Linked DNA regions of Homo sapiens: region 1 is linked to region 2. Evidence: fine-mapped expression QTL. A gene starts in region 2. The other region holds a variant in brackets. All regions are shown on one strand. Distances are between the middles of the regions.

Region 1 (11,734 bases), 26 kb after region 2:
GAAGTCAAGGCTGCAGTGAGTTATGATTGTGTCACTGCACTGAAACCTGGGTGACAGAGTGAGACCTTGTCTTAAAAAACAAAACAACAAAATCACACTGGCCAGTCACAGAAAGAAATGGCAATAATGAAAGTTGCCATCCCTGTCTGACAAACTAGTCTGTTTCTTCTCTAAAACAAATTCGCAAAATGATTAAACTGGGTTGCAAAAAGCTGAGGGAAGTTTAAACAGAATAGCTTTGCTATCATTTGGAAAAAAGACTGAGTAAAAGCTTGGTCACCCTGACGTGGCTAATATTTGTATTGTAAATGCAACTCAGAGTACATTCTTCATAATATCAGATAAAGAAAAATAGTGTGGAACGCGAGTTGTCTGCGTTACTTTCGTATTCTCACTTCTGCTTTGGAGAAGGAAGTTCTTTTAGCATGCTAAGAGAGACAGTTAATATTCAAATTAACTGGAGAAAGGTCTCTCCTTTGAAGTCTCTAGCTTCGTTAGAGATGATGCTAGACACCAGCAGAGGTCTGTATGAGGAGGAAAAGGGGGCAACATGGGACCGGTGAGTGCCCATCCGCGGCTAACTGGATACGGACTGAGAGATCACCCAAGAGAAAAGTGTTTTGCGCCACCCTCTGGACTTTTTATGTATATTTGATGGCTATTAATTGATACTAATATGATTGATAATGAACTACATCAGCACACCACGGCTTGATAATGGATCCCACGTGAATACCATTACAGACTTTGAGGGACACAGCAATGAGGTTACGCAATAAATCTAAGTTTCTGGGTACAAGAAACCGAAACGATGGGTGTCAAAACATATGCAAATAGAACTGAAACTCAGCAACGTACACATTCCAATCTAATAAATATCACCTGAACTTCGATTAAAAATGAATGTAATCTCGGCAGGGCGCGGTGGCTCACGCCTGTAATCCCAGCACTTTGGGAGGCCGAGGCGGGCGGATCACGTGAGGTCAGGAGATTGAGACCAGCCTGACCAACATGGTGAAACTCTGTTTCTACTAAAATACAAAAATTAGCTGGCCTTGGTGGTGCGTGCCTGTAATCCCAACTCCTCGGGAGGCTGAGGCAGGAGAATCGCTTGAACCCGGGAGGCGGAGGTTGCACTGAGCCGAGATCCTGCCACTGCACTCCAGCCTGGGTGACAGAGCCAGACTCTGTTCAAAAAATTAAAAAAAAAAAAAAAAAAAAGAAAAGAAAAAAAATGAATGTAATCTCCTCTTAAGTGGAGCTTTTCAAAAATTCTGCGTTTAAACTCCAAGGGCTTCGTTCTGTGTCGTGTAAATAGTTGGGGAGAGGACAGCACCATTCACTTAAATGTCAATGGGAATCACATTTAAGTAAAAGGAAAAGGAAATCAGTAAATCAAAGTAAATCAAAGACACATCTGCATCCCCATGTTTATTGCAGCTTATTCCCTGTTGGACGTCCCCTGAATTTCCTATAGAGGTGAAGCCATCTCTGCCTTAAGGAAAAATGAAGTGCCTAATACTGCTTATAATATGGTCCCTTTTCCAGATTTAGCTTCTCCACCCCAGATTTTTGCACAAGCCATACTGAACTACTTCATGTTTCCATACTCATGTTTTGTTCCAGCCACACTGAATTACTTAACATTCAGCACATTGCCAAGCTCTTTTCCCCCGCTTCCGGGGTTTGCACAAGTTGTTCCCTTTGCCAAGCAAATTCTTCCCCACCTCCCTACTCCTTGCCTAAACTCTTCTTTTGGGCGTAGAAAGAAGTATTGCTTCTGGGTAACCTTTGTCTAATAATGAAATATCTAAGACATATTGAGAACTTACTATGGGTCCCTCACTGTTCTAAGTTCTTTCACAGAGATTCACTTTTATAATTATCAGGAAAACTGGACTTTTTTTTTTTTTTTTTTTTTTTGAGATGGAGTCTCGCTCTGTCGTCCAGGCTGGAGTGCAGTGGCGCGATCTCGGCTCACTGCAACCTCCGCCTCCCGGGTTCAAGCGATCCTCCTGCAGCCTCTCAAGCAGCTGGGATGACAAGCGTGCGCCACCACGCCCGGGTAATTTTTGTATTTTTAGTAGAGACGGCGTTTCACCTTGTTGGCCAGGCTGATCTTGAATTCCTGACCTCAAGTGATCCTCCCACCTTGGTCTCCCAAAGTGCTGGGATTACAGGCATGAGCCACAGCGCCCGGCCAGGATTCACTTTTATAATTATCAGGAAAACTGTAGGAAGTGTTAATAGGTAAAAGGACCTCATTTCATAGATAAGGAAACTGAGACACAGAGAGAGAGGGAGTTTCTAAAAGTGTTATACAGGTGGCCTATAAACTCTGTAGTGAAGAAAGGAAATGAAGACAGGATAGAATGATCGCGAGAAAATGGTAAGAACAAGGGACTGGAAGACGCAAGGAAGTTTAGAAATACGCTGGCATAGGGGTCTTTTGAGCAGGCACGCTGCTAAGATGATAGGATTATAGTCAAGGATGGGGAGCGATTGCACTGGGGATTTCTGGAGCGGGTGCAGCCTCTGATGGTAACATGGTCCAGGGTATACCTTCAAAACGGGAGGCTACTGGAGTGAAAGGCGTCAATGGTGATAACACTTTAAAAAAAACTTCAGTGTTTCCCTAGCATCCAGCCCAGTATCTGCTAAATTCTTTAAAATATCTGTTGAATGCATGTCGTGAACGCCGTGCTCATGGGCAAGCCCCAGATGAAGCCTGTGCAAGTGCTTCTTGCTTTAACTCCCTTGTAGCAATCAGAGGAACATCCTCTGCCTAGGATTCCCAAGCTCCCTGAACCTCACGCGACAGCTGGAGCCCAGGCTGCGTCCGCTTTGAGGTTCATCCGAGCCTGGGCAGTTCGGTCCCTGGAGGGAATTCGCTTTAGATACGACTGTCAGAGAGAAGTGTGCTGATAAGAACACTCGCTCATAGCGCGCAAGCATCAGAAGTGGGGGAGGCCGGGGAGGCGCTGCGCCGGTGCCTCAGGCCGTCCTCGGACACAGGCCCTGAGAAGCGTGTCCGTGTTTCAGAGGGTGGCGGCGGCAGCTTTGTCTCAGCGAAGGCCACAGCACTGCGGGCAGCTGCCGCATGAAACCTCGGCTCCCCCTGACTCTGCACCCGACACTTCACCTGCAACGCAATCCGAAGGCGAAGGCACCGCATCCCGTCGGCCCCGCGCGGCCGGAAGCCTCGCGCCCAAGACTCCCCGGCATCCTAGCGCGCTGGCTGCAAAAGAGGCGGGAAACGCCTCCGCGTCCCTTCCAACAGTACCGGAGAGGGAGAGGGGCGTGGCTGAGACTAGCCCCGACCACGCGCGCGCGGCCCCTCGGCAACCGGCACAACACAACAAAATGGCTGCCGCGCCGCTGGGCCCCTGAGGAAAGAGCCCGAACTTCTCCCGCTCTACCTCAGCCTGCGGGACTGCTCGGCTCGGCTTCTAGGCGGTGAGCGTCAGACCTGGCCGAGCCCGTTCCCCGGCATCCGGCCCGAGCAGTGGGGGCCGGCGGCAAAGGCGGGAAGGCCCGGACCGGGCGTGGTGTGGGCCGGCTTGGGATGGATTCGGGGCGGGGGCGCGTGTCTGGGAATTGGGATTGGACGGGAAAGAGGGGAGGGCCCGGAACGGGCGTGGGGCGGTGGATGAAGGAGGGAGGTTTGGATGGGAAGAGGTGGGGACGGCGGGGGCGATTGGGGATGAAGAACCAGAGTGTGGGGAGGTGTGGAAGTTAGGGTGCGGCGCCCAGAAGGTTGTGGGTCCTGCCACCTGAGCTGAGGGGAGAGCTGGGATGTGCCAGCTGTCTGTGGGGAGTGAGCGGGAGAAAGGACAGTTTGGGCGTCCTGACGGGTTGTCACGGTATCGGACGGAGTACAGTGCGTGGAGAAAGATGACAGGATATGGGGACGAAATGCTAAAAGAAGGGGAAGAACAAACACTTCCGTTATATTCGTTAAGGGACTAGAGAATTTTGAAGCCAGACAAACTTGGGTTGAAGCCTCAATTCT[G/A]CCACCTTGTGTAACTTAACCAGGTCTGTGACCCTGGATATGTGTCTGAGCCTTCCTGATCATGTTTCCTCATTTGTCCAAATAATTGCGAATCATTTTTGGGTGTTCACTATTTGTCAGATCCAGTTTTAAGCACTTTGCACGTATTAACCTCATTTAGAATTTAAAATAACTTGTATGAGGTTATCATCCCCATTTAAAAAGTGATAGCACTGAGGACCAGAGAGGTTAAGTAATTTGCCTAAGATCACACAGTAAGTGGAAAATCAGAATTTGAACTCAGGCTGTTTCGTTCCAGAATCCAAGCTTTTAACTGTTCAGGTACATTGCCATTTGTAAATCAGGTTAATAATTCTGATCCTATACAGCTAAATCTTTGAGGATTTAAATTTGGTATTGTCTAAGTGTTTAGTACAGTCCTTCAGTCAACAAATATTTATTGTTTATAGAACAACAGACAAAACCTCTGCTCTCTTGTAGCTTATAGTCTAGAAGGAGAAACAGGCAACAACCAAGTAGTTTCACAAATAATGGTTATAAAATGCTATGAAGGAGACTGCTTGGTGCAGAGATCATGGGTAATAGGGAGATAAAATCTTCTGCATCTTGAGCTTAGATTCTAGCATGGTTCTTCCTACATAAAAGTTGCTCAATAAAATTGAATAATTAATGGAAAGAGATGGGAAGCTTGAGTTTTAGGGTATCTGAGCAGAAGAAGAGAGATGGGAGAGGGGATTCAGGCTTTTAATAGGATGGAGAAGGATACGGGGGCTAGAGTATTAGGATGGAAAGGCAAATAGGCAGGCAGTTGGGTTGGGATGAAGAGGAATGGATGGAGGTTTGAGTATTTTGTTTAGGGAGGGGAGTAATTGGAGGTCAGAGTATTGGAACGCATTAGGATGTCAGGGTATTTTCTGGGGTGAAGAGAGATGAGCAGCTTGGGAAGTCTGGATGGATAGAGAAATGTTGAGTCTGGGCACAGGAAAGAACCATAGAGAAATGGGGGAGACTATTACTGTGTTAGGGAACTGGGATAGAATTTGTGGGAAAATTGGCAATCAGAATGGGATAAAGAAGAATGGGAGGCAGAGGTGGGTGGGCAGCACAGAATGGGGGAATTGGCTTTGGAAAGAAAAATGGCTGGAGACTTTGCAGAGGAATCGGAATCAGGATATTTGAAAGGAGGAGAAGATTAAGGAGTAAAAGTATTTCAGTAGGTCAGAGGGTATGGGATGAAGTAGACTTGGAAAGTACTGAAATCCAATTAAAGGGCTAAGGAGAGGGATATGGGGGTTAATAAATGGGGATGGGTATTTGCATATTAGGGAGTCTGTAGAGAGACAGAAGGAGGTCTGCGTTATTTGGAGATCAGAGAAGATGGGAAGTTAGGAAGGTTAGGAAAGGCTGGATGGAGGTGGAGTTTGCAGTCTGTACTAAGCTGTGATGGACTGAATTGTTAGATCAGAGCAACTATCTGGGTTTATAGGTGGCAGGATGGGTAGTGTTTTGTTGCCTGGACGTAGGATTCTGATTATCATGTCATTCCAATGGCTTTCTCTTGCTCTGCAGACAGCCTTTAAAATACAACTGCAGCTCTGAACTTTATTTGCTTTTTTTTTCTCTTTATCCTGCTCCTTTACTCGCCCTAGCCTACCTCTCAGTTGTCTTCATTTTTCCATTGCTTGCTTGGTCTTTGTTCATGTGATTGCAAACAACATCCTAGATCAAACTACATCCTCATCTCTCCATTAAAATTATAATTCAGCATTTACCACCTCCAGGCAGTAGCCTAAGAAATAATGCCAGCCATTCTCAAACACTGTAAACCCCTAAGCCCACTTCACTGAGTTAGCTATTCTCTGAGACTGATTACGTCTATCTTGTTTCAGTGTCCAAGCTTTACAGAAGCTGTGGCAACCAAGGGTTTAAGTCTATGAATGAGTAAGCCTGACTTTTACTAATCAGGAGAGGTAATAAAGGACCTCATGATAGTCTGGTGAGACCTAAAGGGTCTTGATCATTAGGATGTAAAAACTACAGGCTGGGCACAGTGGCTCACACCTGTAATCCCAGCACTTTGGGAGGCTGAGGCAGGAGGATCACTTGAGCCCAGGAGTTCAAGACCAACCTGGGAACTATAGTGAGACCCCCCATCTCTACAAAAAATAAAAAATTAGCCAAGCGTGGTTATATGCGCCTGTAGTCCCAGCTACTCAGGAGGCTGAGGTAGGAGGATCACTTGAGCCCAGGAAGGCAAGGTTGCTGTGAGCCATGAGCATGCCACTACACTCCAGCCTGGGTGACAGAGAAAGACCTTGCCTCAGGGGGGAAAAAAACGCCAACTACGTACTATACATACTATAATAAATGTCATCTTTTAATCCATTTAATTAGGAATAAGATTTTACCTAAGCACATGCCTCTTAGCTTTTCTCAAATTTTAGAGTATTATCCTTATTTAGAAGGAGAATGCCAGTGCAGCTTAGCAGCATCAATAGTATTACTGAGGGCTGGGCATGGTGGCTGTAATCCCAGCACTTTGGGAGGCCGAGGTGGGTGGATCACCTGAGGTCAGAAGTTTGAGACCAGCCTGGCCAGCATGGCAAAACCTCATCTCTACTAAAAATAAAAAAAATTAGCCGGGCGTGGTGCTGTGCACCTGTAATCCCAGTTACTCAGTAGGTTGGGGCGGGACAATCACTTGAACCTGGGAGGCGGAGGTTATAGTGAGCCGAGATCACACCACCGCACTCCAGCCTGGGCAACAGAGCAGGACTCTGTCTCAAAAAAAGAAAAAAATAGTATTACTGAGACTACAGATTAAACTCAATTTCTCCCACTATACGCTCACAACATGATTCCGTAGGATTTTCCCCCACACATTAAGCAAGCAGTTAGTTCTGCAGTGGTGGGCACCACAGGACTGTCCTCTAGTTCAGTTCAATTCTGACACTGTCTACCTGGAGACAGCGTCACATCCCTAAGGTTGAAGGCTGGCTTACAAGACTGCCCCCAAGTTCTGATGCCAACTGTAAGCCTCAGTTTTACCTGTGCTTCTGACTGACCAGCTATAAATCAGAGTTCCCACAACTCCCTCCTTGGGTTTGATTAATTTGCTAGAGCAGCTCACAGAATTCAGGGAGCACTTACTTACATTTACTGGTTTATTATAAAAGATATTACAAAGGATATAGGTGAAAAGATGCATAGCGTAAGGCAGGTGGGAAGGGGCGTAGAGCTTCCACACCCTCTCTGGGTGGATTCCCCTCCAGGACCCTCCCTGTGTCCAGCTTTCTGGAGGCTCCCCAAACCCAGTCTTTTAACTTTTTATGGAGGCTTCATTATGTAGGCCTGATTGATTACATCATTGGCCATTGGTGATCAACTCAACCTTTAGCCCCTCTCCCCTCCCTCTTTCTAGTGACCAGCCACGATCCTGAAGCTGCCTAGAGGTGGCTAGCCATCAGTCAACTCATTAGTATACAAAAAGACACTTACGATAGCAAAAGGGACTAAGACTAAGTATGTATTTCATAATATTAAAATTACTAAAAGACTTTTTTCCATGGCAAAATTGTGTTATAAGGCACAAAAATTGTTTACCACGCTTGAAATTTAGACCAAAAAGCCTTGTGGAAATGGCATAAATAGCAGTTATGTAACTTGGGGGAGTTTTTCTGATCCATATGTATAGTTTAATATGAGAAAATGAAGGAAAAAGTACAGATACATTTAAGTTCACAGTTTGAAGTACAGGTTGAAGGCCAGGTGTGGTAGCTCATGCCTGTAATCCTAACACTTTGGGAGGTAGAGGTGGGAGGATTGCTTGAGCTCAGGAGTTCGAGATCAGCCTGGACAACATAGTGAAACGCTGCCTCCAAAAAAATAAAAATAAAGTACAGGTTGATTATCTCTTGTCCAAAATGCTTGCTATCAAAAGTGTCTTGGATTTTGGATTTTTTCGGATTTTGGAATATTTGCTTTATACTTGTTTATATTTTTTACATTTATATTTAAATATTTCAGATTTTCAGATTTGGAGTGCTTAACCTGTAGTGAATGAGGCTATTGGAATGGGGCATTTGGCTATATTGTAATGTATGTGAAATAATAATCAACTTTTTAAAAACAAAAAAAGACGGGGTTTTTATTCCTTTCAAACTACTCACCTTGAGAGACCGGATCATGATATCAGAGATCCTTTCTTTGTATAAAATTTTCTGGGTTTCCTTCAGGATTTTTTTTGTTTTGTTTTTTTGAGATGAAGTCTCACTCTGTTGCCCAGGGTGGAGCGCAGGGGCACGATCTTGGCTCATCGCAACCTCCACCTCCCCAGTTCAAGTGATTTTTGTTCCTCAACCTCCCAAGTAGCTGGGATTACAGGCACCTGCCGCCCATGGCATCATGCTAGGCCATAGAGAACAAAGGAAACATAATCTAGACTCCAGGAAACTCAGATAGCTATATGACATGGTCATTAAAAACATGGGTTTTGAATTAAATCACATTTCAAGTTTTGGCTAAACCAATTAGTTAAGGAATTTTGGACAAATTATTTAAGATCTTCATCTGTAAAATGGGAAATAACACTTATCTCATAGAGTTGTTGTATTCAATTCTTTCAATATGATGATACACATAAAGAGCTTATCACAACATATATTTGTCTGTCTGTTTTTTAGAGACAGGGGCTCCCTGTGTTTCCCAGGCTGCAGTGCAGTGGCCAGTCACAAGGTTGATCATAGCACATTGTAGCCTGGAGCTCCTGGGATCAAGCAATCCTCCTGCCTCATCCTCTGGAGTAACTGGGACTGCAAGTATACATACCGTGCCTGACGAAATATCACAATATTTGGTGCGTGGTAAGCCCTCAGTAAATGTTAGCCACTAGTATGATATTCTTTAGAATTAACTTCAATCATCATCTTTTCATTAAATTTTTGGAAGTAGACAAAATTCATATGGAGTCAAATTTACTGAGTAAGGTTAGTGATCAAACTGGGAAAATAAAAACAAAGTGTACCTGAAGCGATGGACCCGATTTTCTTGTGAGACTTAAGAATTAGTTTGAAAGCAGAATCCAAAGAGGAATTCCAAAAATTGAATATATTAATAGATTATATTAGTGTAATCTCTCCTTTATATACTGTATAAGTTCTGTAGGGGAGGAAAGGGAGTAATTCCTTTCTGGCCCATCATAAAGGTCATGGCCAACACCCCTGTAACAAAGACAGGTTGACTAGAGAAAAGCATAGCAAATTTATTCGATCAAAGCTTTATGTGTCATGGGAGCCTTCAGAATGAAGACCCAAAAAATGCAGAAAAAATTATCCGTTTTTATGCTTAGGATTAGTGAAGTGTGGACAGCTGTATAGAAATAGGATTGGACAAAATGGGTATGATCTAACGCTAATAGACTGAGTGAGGAAACTCAGCAACACCTACCTCTCCAGATTTCTCTTGGCCTCTCTGTGCAGCATTCCTTCCTCCTGGGTATTGGGTAGGACCCCTATGGAATGAGAGTCTTAATTTCTTTATGGCCAGCTGTTAGAAAGCTGGGAGTTTGCAGGAAGTTTCTGTATAATCACAGCTTATATGTACCCATATGCTTGTGAAGTTATATTATCTTTTAATAGAGATATGAAAAACTCAAAATGTTCTTCCTACTGCCGTACCACACAGTACAATACTTGTGACATCAGACATGTAAGGGTTGTTGCCCCATACACCAGATACTTCTTCAGTGGACACCAGCTGCATGTCCTCTTATTCAGTTCAATTCTGACACTGTCTGCCTGAAGATAGCATCAGATCCCACAGGTTAAGGACTCAGTCCCACAAGAGTGCCACCAACTTCAGATGCCCATTACAAGTAGTAGATTGCCACCTATACTTCTGACCACCAAGCTATAAATTGGGACTCCCACTGCCCCCTCCTTGGGTTCAATTAATTTGCTTGAGTGGGTCACAGAACTCAGAGAAATACTACTTACATTTTCCCATTTATTATAAAGGATATTACAAAATAAACAGCCAGAGGAAGAGTTGCATAGGGCAAGGTACGTGGAAAGGGGTATGAAGTTTTCATGCTCTCGCCAGCATGCCATCTTCCAGACACCTCCACATGTTCAGCTAATTGGAAGTTCTCTGGACCCTGTCCTTTTGGGGTTTTATGGAGGCTTACTTATGTAGGCGTGATTGCTCACATCATTGGCTACTGGTTATCAAATCAATTTTAGCTGCTCTCCCCTCCTTAAAGGTTGTGGGGTTGGGCTTAAAGTCCCAACCCTCTAAACATGCCTTAGTCTTTCTGGTGACTGGCCCCCATCCCAAAGCTGTCTGGGTGTCACCAGTCATCTTATTAGTAAACGAAAGACACTCTTATCACTGTGGAGAACCCAAAGGTTTTAAGAGCTATGTGATAGGAAACAGGAGGAACATCAAATATATAGGTTAAAAGAGAAATTATCAACACATTAAATTTAACAGTTTAATTGAACAAAGAATAGTTCACAAATTGGGCAGCCCTCAGAACCAGAAGAGATTCAGAGAGATCCATTCTGCAATGTAGGCAGGCAGCATTTATGGATAGAAAAGGGAAGTGAGGTACAGAAATAGCTTGATTGGTTATAGCTCTGTGTTTACCTTATTTGAACATGGTACGATCACTTGACTGCCTGTGATTGAAGCTCAGCTGCTATGATTGGCTGAGACTCAGCTATTACAAAAACATACTCCTAAGTTAGGCTTTCAGTTAGTTTACCTTCTAAGTTAGGTTGCAGTTCATTATGTAGAGACTTAAAGTACAGAGGCACTTTCAGGCAAAATTTAGTTTAATTTAACATACAGTCATGTGTCCCTTAATGACAGAATTTGCTCTGTAAGATGCGTTGTTAGACAATTTCATCATTGTACAAACATCATAGAATGTACTTACACAAACCTAGATGGTATAGGATAGCCTGTTGCTCCTAGACTACAAACCTGTACAGCATGTTACTGTACTGAATACTTTAGGCAGTTGTAGCACCATGGTAAATATTTGTGCATCTAAACATAGAAAAGGGGCTGGGTGTGGTGGCTCACACTTGTAATCCCAGCACTTTGGGAGGCCAAGGCACGTGGATCACAAGGTCAGGAGTTCGAGACCAGCCTGGCCAATATGGTGAAACCCCGTCTCTACTAAAAATACCAAAATTAGCCAGGCGTGGTGGCACGTGCCTGTAGTCCCAGCTACTCAGGAGGCTGAGGCAGGAGAATCGCTTGAACCCAGGAGGTGGAGGTTTCAGTGAGCCGAGATCGTGCCACTGCACACCAGCCTGGGCGACAGAGGGAGACTCCCTCTCAAAAAAAAAAAAAAAAATAGAAAAAGTACAATAAAAATATGGTATAAAATGTAAAAAAAGTATACCTGTATAGAGCACTTACCAGATGAATGGAGCTTGCAGGACTGGAAGTTTCTTTCCCAGTTAGTCGGTGAGTGAATGTGAAGGTGTAGGACATTACGGTACACTACTGTAGACTTTATAAACACTGTACACTTAGGCTACACTAAATTTATTAAACATTTTTTCTCTCTTCAATAGTAAATTAGCCTTAGCTTGCTGTAATGTTTTTACTTTATAAACTTTAAACTTTTTAAAAACTTTTTGACTGTTGTAGTAAAACTTAGCTTAAAACAAACACATTGTACAGTTGTACAAAATTAATTTCTTTATAACC
Region 2 (8,000 bases):
ACTTTACATACAGCTCTTGTTAATTTTTACAATAAGCCAATGATGCTGGTACTATCATTATTCGTACTTTGCAAGTGGTAAAAGGCTAACTTGGCTAAGGTTATACGGTTTGTAAGTAAATGGGGGAGGCCTTTATATGAGTTCTCAGTTGTTATGTGTACAGTTGAGGTCAAGTTTATATGTTATTCACAACCATAGACTGTTCTCTTATTTTTACTTTTCATGTGATTTATACAATAATGGAAGTGAGTCTATACATGCTTTTGAGTGATTTTTAAAAATTATTTTATTTAAAAACTTACAAATATAAACTGGATTACTAAGTGTATATCACAAGAGTATCTAATTTGAATAGCGAGAACTACATACGCTATTACATAGGAAAAAAAAGTGTTTTAACCCAAAAGGGCATAGTGATCGACTAATTCAAGTGGCCCAACAAGCTTGGAGGGCACCCACCACCCCACCTGGCAGAATTATTCCAGGCTTCTGCCAACATTGTGACATTTTAAGAGTCTGGTAAAAGCAGGAAGTTTTTAGTAACAATGGAATTAATTTATCAGCAATTAAATCCTTTAAAGCATCTGACAGTTATCCTGCATTACAATTAATTTGGATCCACTTACAGGCAAATTACAAAAGAGAGGAAAGAATTTCCAGATTTCCAACCATCATCTGAATTCCCCTTCCCCACATGCCTAGTAGGAGATGGCAGAAAATGAGAGGAGTTCAGTTTTTATGATAATAAGATATATTTACTGAAATTTTGCCCTGTGATAAGGCACTATTCTGAATACTTTATTTGTATAAACTCATTGTGTCATTACAACCACTCTGTGAGGAACTATTACTCCAATTTTAAGGTGAAGAAACTGCTAATTAATTTTCCCAAGGCCACACATATAGGATTTATGAATTCTATAATTCACAAATTATAGAATTAGAAATCGAACCTGAGCAGCCCGTTTCCAGAATTAACATTTTCAACTGTTGTACTAAATGGAATTTATAAAGAGTTTTGTAATTAGAAAAATTTAGGGATATAAAGCTACTTTAATTTCAGTATTTATAGAAGCTTTATGTTTTTAAGTTTAGTATTGCTTTAATTTTGAATTGTGTATGGTAGGGGTCCCCAACCCCTGGGCCATGGACAAATACCAGTCCATGGCTTGTTAGGAACCAGGCTACACAGCAGGAGGTGAGCAGTGGGGCAAAGGAGCATTACCACCTGAGCTCTGCCTCCTGTCAGATCAGTGGTGGCATTAGATTCTCCTAGGAGCATGAACTCTATTGTGAACCGCACATGCGAGGGATCTAGATTGCAAGCTCCTTATGAGAATATAATGCCTGATGATCTGAAGTGGAACAGTTTCATTCTGAAACCATCCCCACCCCAATCCTGGTCCATGGAAACATTGTCTTCCACAAAACCTGTCCCTAGTGCCAAAATGGTTGGGGACTGCTGGTCTATGTGATGGTAGCCGTCAAGCAAAAATACATAGTGTTTAGAAGCCCCTAAAAGAATATTCTGGAACCACCCTTTATAAAGATTTTGGTTCTTATTGACTTATCAGTAGCATAATCTATCCATATAAATAATTTCATAGTTTTCTTTGTCTTTCAATTGCTGCAGAGGAGCAGGAGCTTGCAGAGAGGCAAGAATGTTATTTTGGCCTCTATCTGGAATGCTCTTTCCTCAAATATTTGCATGGTTTGCTTCCTCACTTCCTTCAGGCTCTGTTTGAGTGCAGCCTCCTTAAGAGAACCTTTCCTGGCCACATTTTAAAATAGTGCCCCATAATTATTTTTTAATTCTCATACTCTGCTTTATTTTTTTCTTCATAATACTACCTACCTGACCTTACACATTCTTTCATTGGTTCATTCATTCATTACTTGCTTCTCCCACTAGAATGCAAGCTCTAGGAATTGTCTTACCGTTTGCTATATCTGCAGTGCCTATCATATGTTTAGATGCTCAATAAATATTTGTTGAATCAATCAATCAACCAATTAATTAAAGTGATTGATTGCCATGTTGTAAATGGTACACTCTGACTTCTTCAGAGAAAGTGAGGAAATAATTTTTATTAAGGGCTAGTAGAAAGAATTCAGAATAAGTCTGGACAAGAATCATGGAACCCAGGTCCTAGCCCTAGTTCTGCCACCAATTTGAAGTCACTTAATTTCAGTCTCTCTAAGCCTTAGCTGCTCGTCTTTCAAAAAGAATAAAGGCAGGATGCTAAGGTAGTTGAGTGCTTGTGGCCATGTAAAAAGATCACAGATCAGAAATACGAGGGTGCTAAAAAAGAATGACATCCTAAGTATGTGTTTATATATAATATATTTACATGTATACATTTATGACAAAATGAAAAAAATTGAAGTGATAAACAGGAGACCTTAATAAAAATCCTGTTTCTCTCTCTCTAGAACTGTGACCTTTGGTCAGTCACTTCCCTTATCTGGACTTATTCTCATATATAAAATGAATAGGTTTGATTAGATGATCTGCAGTTACTTTTCAGTATTAAAATATTTCTAGATATAAGATCATTATTTTTAAAACATTACTTAAAATGCATATTATCTCAATAATGACACTAAAAATTGTGAAAAGTCAGCTCATAAATGTATGGTAGAAGTCACTACAACAACAGATTTTCAGATCACAGTATTAGATTGACTCCTAAATAACCCTGGTTTAACTGTGTATAGTCTATGAAAAACACAAAGAAAACTAAACACCAAGTTAAAATAAGCAAAAAATGTCAAGAAAGTTTATTATCTGGAGTTTCTTTTGTGCTTTTTTGAAGAGGAATTTGAATAATCACTTAACGTAAATTTTAATAAATAACAATTCCATAAAAGCTGTCATGTTGTTAGCTACTCATCAAATCAAAATGCTTCCATGACTTTCTCATTCAGAGATGATACTATTCACTTGCTGTTCTCAGAAGTAGCAAGTTATTTTCAAGTTAACAGAATCTGTTAAATTTAACTCTTCATTCGTCATAACTAAGATGCATTGAAAAATGAAGATAGCTTGTTTTACTTACGTTTGCTCCTGTCCCCAGGTTTTCCCCAGGAAGATTAAAAAACAAAGTATTCCCAAAAGGCCCATGGTTGGAGGTAGCAGGAAACCACGGATATAACACTTTTGAGGATAGTCTCCTTTTAAATAAACTGAACTTGAAGAATTCAGATAATCTGGTTAATTATTAATGTCAGAAAGGTGAACCTCTAAGTGGGAAAACTAGAATTGGAACTAAAACACCCTTTCATGCCCAGGAATACAGATAGGGAGTACTTTACAGGAACTTACACCCAGGGAATTTATTTTTATTAATACAAATAAAGGGACCCTAAAATGGGAATTTGGCACTATGAAGAGTGGCTCAAAGCTAGAAACCAGTAAGCCCATTGCTTTGGCCTTTCTTCTCTTGCCCAGGGCATTTGCTTTGATGTTGCATCATCTGCAAGCATACATCTGGCAGGTCCACTCTAATACTGATGAAGACCCACCTGGACTCAGTTTCACACTGAAATGATTTTAGAAGGGGCCTGGTTTAGACAGGGCTCACAAGATGATCTTTTTTTGGTGACCTGAATGGCAGTGTCCTTGGTGCTGCAAATGGTCTGAGCATAACCTAGCTCTGCAAAGGAGGTCTAGGGAATTGTTCCTTGGTCTGTCTCAGTCTAGAGAACACTAGGTGGAGGAAAGTTGTGACTGGCAATGAAAACGCCATGTGGAGGATGCTGTCGTCATTCTCTAAGTATTGGAGAATAGATATTCTCCAATATTTATTAAGGCATATACCACTCGTTCAAAGTTTGTCTTTATTCAGATATAGAATATCTTTCTTTTAAAGAAAACACATGTTATACTTTTCAGTGAGGATTTTAATAATTTTAATATAAGAGCTCCAGAAAAACAAAGCTTCCTATAACAATTGAGTCTAGTAATTAATTCACAATATACTAAAATTTTATCTTTATACTTTTTTTTTTTTTTTTGGAGACAGAGTCTCTTTCTGTCGCCCAGGCTGGAGTCTAGTGGCACTATCTTGGCTCAGGGCAACCTCTGCCTCCCAGGTTCAAGGCATTCTCCTGCCTCAGCCTCCCAAGTAGCTGGGACTACAGGCATGTCCCATCACATCCAGCTAATTTTTTGTATTTTTAGTAGAGGTAGGGTTTCACCGTGTTGGCCAGGCTGGTCTCGAACTCCTGACCTCAGGTGATCCACCCACCTTGGCCTCCCAAAGTACTGGGATTACAGGCATGAGCCACTGTGCCTGGCTGATTTTTAATTAAGTTAATTTTTATGATGTTTTATGTTCATTAGAATTTTTTTATTTACTACCTTCTCTTTTTTAGTACTATTTTTACCTTAATATATAATATGTACTCTTCTTTAAAATAATAAAACAGATGTCTCTAAACATATTTCTATAATGAGATATTTATGATATATAAATGAGATATTTATGGTCACATTGGCATTCTTTGCTTTGAATTAATAAATAATAAACCAAAAATATTTATAAACACTTTAATGCTGAATTCACTAGGGAAAAAAGGAGCACAAAGGGAAATTTGATATACAAATTTCACTAAAGGTATCTCTTGCATATGTCATTGAAATGACAAACATTTGCCACTATTGTCTGATCATCTAGCCCATTTATTTCAAAAGGGAATCTGTGAAATGATTAAGCTGGGTTGCAAAAGATGGGTCAAGTTAAAACAAACAGTACTTTTGCCATCATTTTTGGGAAATGAAATTTAAGAGAGAACAACAACACTCAAATCAAGGTAGGTAATATTTGTATTTTAAGTGCAAATAAGTTTGTTTGCTTGAGCTATAGAGTAAATACTGATAACCAATATTTGCAAGCCATTGTCCTGTTTCTCTGGTAGAAAACATTTAGAGAATGATGGATCTCAAAGATTCTCAACAGAACTGAAGTTTAACAATTTATAGATTCTAAGCTGTGTTTAGTCAAAATTTTTTATCTACCTTCTAAATGTGGCTCACAGATGAACTTTTGAGGCTGGGCACGCTGGCTCACACCTGTAATCCCAGATCTTTGGGAGGCCGAGGTGGGTGGATCACCTGAGGTCAAGAGTTCAAGACCAGCCTGGCCAACATGGCGAAAACCCGCCTCTACTAAAAATACAAAAATTAGCCAGGCGTGGTGGCGGGTGCCTGTAATCCCAGCTACTTGGGAGGCTGAGGCAGGAGATTCACTTGAACCTGGGAGGTGGAGGTTGAGCACAGATCACGCCACCGCACTCCAGCCTGAGCAACAGAGCCAGACTCCATCTCAGAAAAAAAAAAAAAAAAAAAAGATGATTTTTTTTCTTTATAATTTAAAATGTGACCTTTGGTAAGCCTTTCATTTTTATACAAATACTGCATTTCTAAAAGAGAAGAAACTCAGATCTGGCAGAAAGTTTGGTGGTCACCTGACCTTCCTGCTAATGCTGCCTCAATTGTCCCCTCATGATTGAGCCCAAATGACCTAGCCTAGTGCACCAGGCCCCTCTTGAGCCCTGCTTAGTTCTCCAGCCTCAACATTCCATTCTTCACTCCGGCCAAGGAGCTGAATTACCTGATTATTCCCTGAAGTCACCTTGACACCAAGGTGCTCCTAGCAGGATAATAATTTTGTATCTTTCAAATGGATATTCTTTAGTTATTTTGTACTTACTTGGTAAAATATGTCTGGACACCAATTTTCTATTAATACAAACTACAGAACTCTTTTTTATGTATAATAAAAAGATTTTATCATGTATAATTTTCAAAATCAGACAGCTTACAGGGAGGTATATTAATGGGTTGTAAATTTAGAGAATAAAAAATAAGTGACATTGTGTTTGTTATTGTTTTCAGAAATTCAGCCCATCAGATTGCGAACTTCAAGTGCCTGCTGGCTGGCTAGAGTAAGAGAGGTGATGTGACCCATAGCTGCCCCAGGTAATTTTCATGTGCCTGTTCCATGTCCAGAGGCCAGTGGAGAAACAGAGGCGTCTCCTCAGAATTAAATTATTCTAAATGGAGACACGGGAATCATACAAGTTTTGTTCAAGAGTGGTAGGCTGGCACTAGGCAGGTGGGTTATTCTAAGTAAAACCCAGTATTTGTCCCTCTGACTGCTTTTTGGCTCAAGCCCGCAGTCTCACGTTTTAATCCTTTAGGAGAAAGGCTCTACTAAAAGGCCAACTGAAATCCAAAAAGAACTACTTCAGTAACTCTCCATGGGATATAGAGGAGAAAGGCACTGGAGGCTTCGGTGCCAGCAGTTTAAAGACTGACTGGAGAGAGGGCGGAGGTGGAGCAAGATGGCTGAATAGAACCCCCCCCGAGATAGTTCTCCACACAGGAACACCAAATAGAACAACTATCCACGCAAGACAGCACCTTCATAAAAGCCATAAAATCAGGTGAGTGATCACAGTGCCTACTTTTACCGTAATGATAAGGAAAGAGGCATTGAAGATAGGGTGGGGGTAGGGGGGAAGATCTCCCTGTATTGCCTATACCACCCCTCCTCCAACCACAGGCTGCACAGCAGGAAAGAGAATCCGTGTGCTTGGAGGAGAGAGAGCAAAGTGAGTGTGGGACTTTGCACTGGAAGTCAGTGCTGCCCCGTCATGGTGGAACATAACACAGGACAGAATTCTGCAGGCGCCTAGAATTCTGACAGTGCATTTAGGCAGGCCTTGGGACAGAGGAGAATTCTGTGCTCCAGAGGGAGAAACCCAGGTCATGGCTAGCTTCACCACTGGCTAACTAAAGTGGTCTGAGGTCCTGAGTCTATTTGAGTGGCAGTCAGGACACAAGGACTAAAGTGTGTAGACTAAACATAAAATGCTAAGCACCCCCAACTTGCCCCCTATTGACTGAATGAACTCCCACTTGGCCAAAGAGACCCCAGAAACATCTTAAAAATTGAATTCCTGGCCGTGATGGGAAGGGAGGTTAGACATGCCTTGTTATACCCCCTCCCTTTGGAGTTTAGGCACAACTGACCAGCATTCAAGTTAAAATATCATAAGACGGACAAAACAGACTCTGTGGCAATAAGATACCAAATTATAAACAAGACCTCAGGCCATTCATGCAAGGAATCACACCCTACAAACCATAAAATATCATTAAATGAGTTTTAAAAGTTAACCTGGTATAGTCCGGGCGTGGTGGCTCACTCCTGTAATCCCAGCACTTTGGGAGGCTGAGGCAGGCAGATCACCTGAGGTCAGGAGTTCAAGACCAGTCTGGCCAATATGGTGAAACCTCATCTCTACTAAAAATACAAAAATTAGCTGGGTGTGGTGACAGGTGCCTGTAATCCCAGCTACTCAGGAGGCTGAGGCAGCAGAATTGCTTGAACCTGGGAGGCAGAGGTTGCAGTGAGCCAAGATCGTGCCATTGCACTCCAGCCTGGGCAACGAGAGCAAAACGCTGCCTCAAAATAAATAAATAAATAAAAATAAACCTGCTGTAATATGGTTTGCTTTTCAACCTGACTCTGATATAGCATCACATGACAGATAGCAGACCCTGTAGGGAATAAAAATATTTTACCTCAAAATATATTTATTTGACATATTTTGAAATGGCCCTGCAAAGCTATCTTTTGTGAGTGAGATTTGCATCTGTAGATAATCTCCATTAATGCAACCAGGCCTTCCCTTTCTAGGCTTTTCCCAGTTCTGGCAGAGTTGAACTGAGAGTCTGACATCTCAAAGGTCTGCAAAGAGACAGACGTTTGCCATTGATTCTCTCGGAGGGCTGCTACCTATGAGGATTCATCAACGTAACAAGAACCTTGGACCCCACAACCTCCTTTAACTCAAGCATTACTTACTATTGACTTTAAGCCTTTAGACAATAGCTTAACCCTCTCAACCAATTGTCAACTGAAGAATCCTTAAGACCCACCTATAACTACTAAGTCCCTGCTTGGAGATGTCCTGCTTTTTTGGGCTGA

The links. PIP is the estimated chance that this variant, and not a neighbour inherited with it, causes the effect.
Region 1: its variant is fine-mapped to the expression of C5 in whole blood (INTERVAL, PIP above 0.99).

What each region holds. Positions count from the first base shown.
Region 1 is chr9:121,071,612-121,083,345 of GRCh38, forward strand. It overlaps CNTRL (centriolin), which reads left to right and starts at 3,344. Exons shown (of 44, transcript NM_007018.6): 1 at 3,344-3,456; 2 at 8,695-8,867. It also overlaps a transcript of C5 not described here. RefSeq lists enhancers at 516-565, 2,919-3,308 and silencers at 2,608-2,804, 3,429-3,488, 3,609-3,748. The variant G/A (reference allele first, on the strand shown) is at 4,013.
Region 2 is chr9:121,047,123-121,055,122 of GRCh38, forward strand. It overlaps C5 (complement C5), which reads right to left and starts at 3,153. Exons shown (of 41, transcript NM_001735.3): 1 at 3,060-3,153. The coding sequence starts at 3,124. It overlaps LOC124902261 (a long non-coding RNA gene), which reads left to right and starts at 5,735. Exons shown (of 3, transcript XR_007061753.1): 1 at 5,735-5,983; 2 at 6,205-6,450.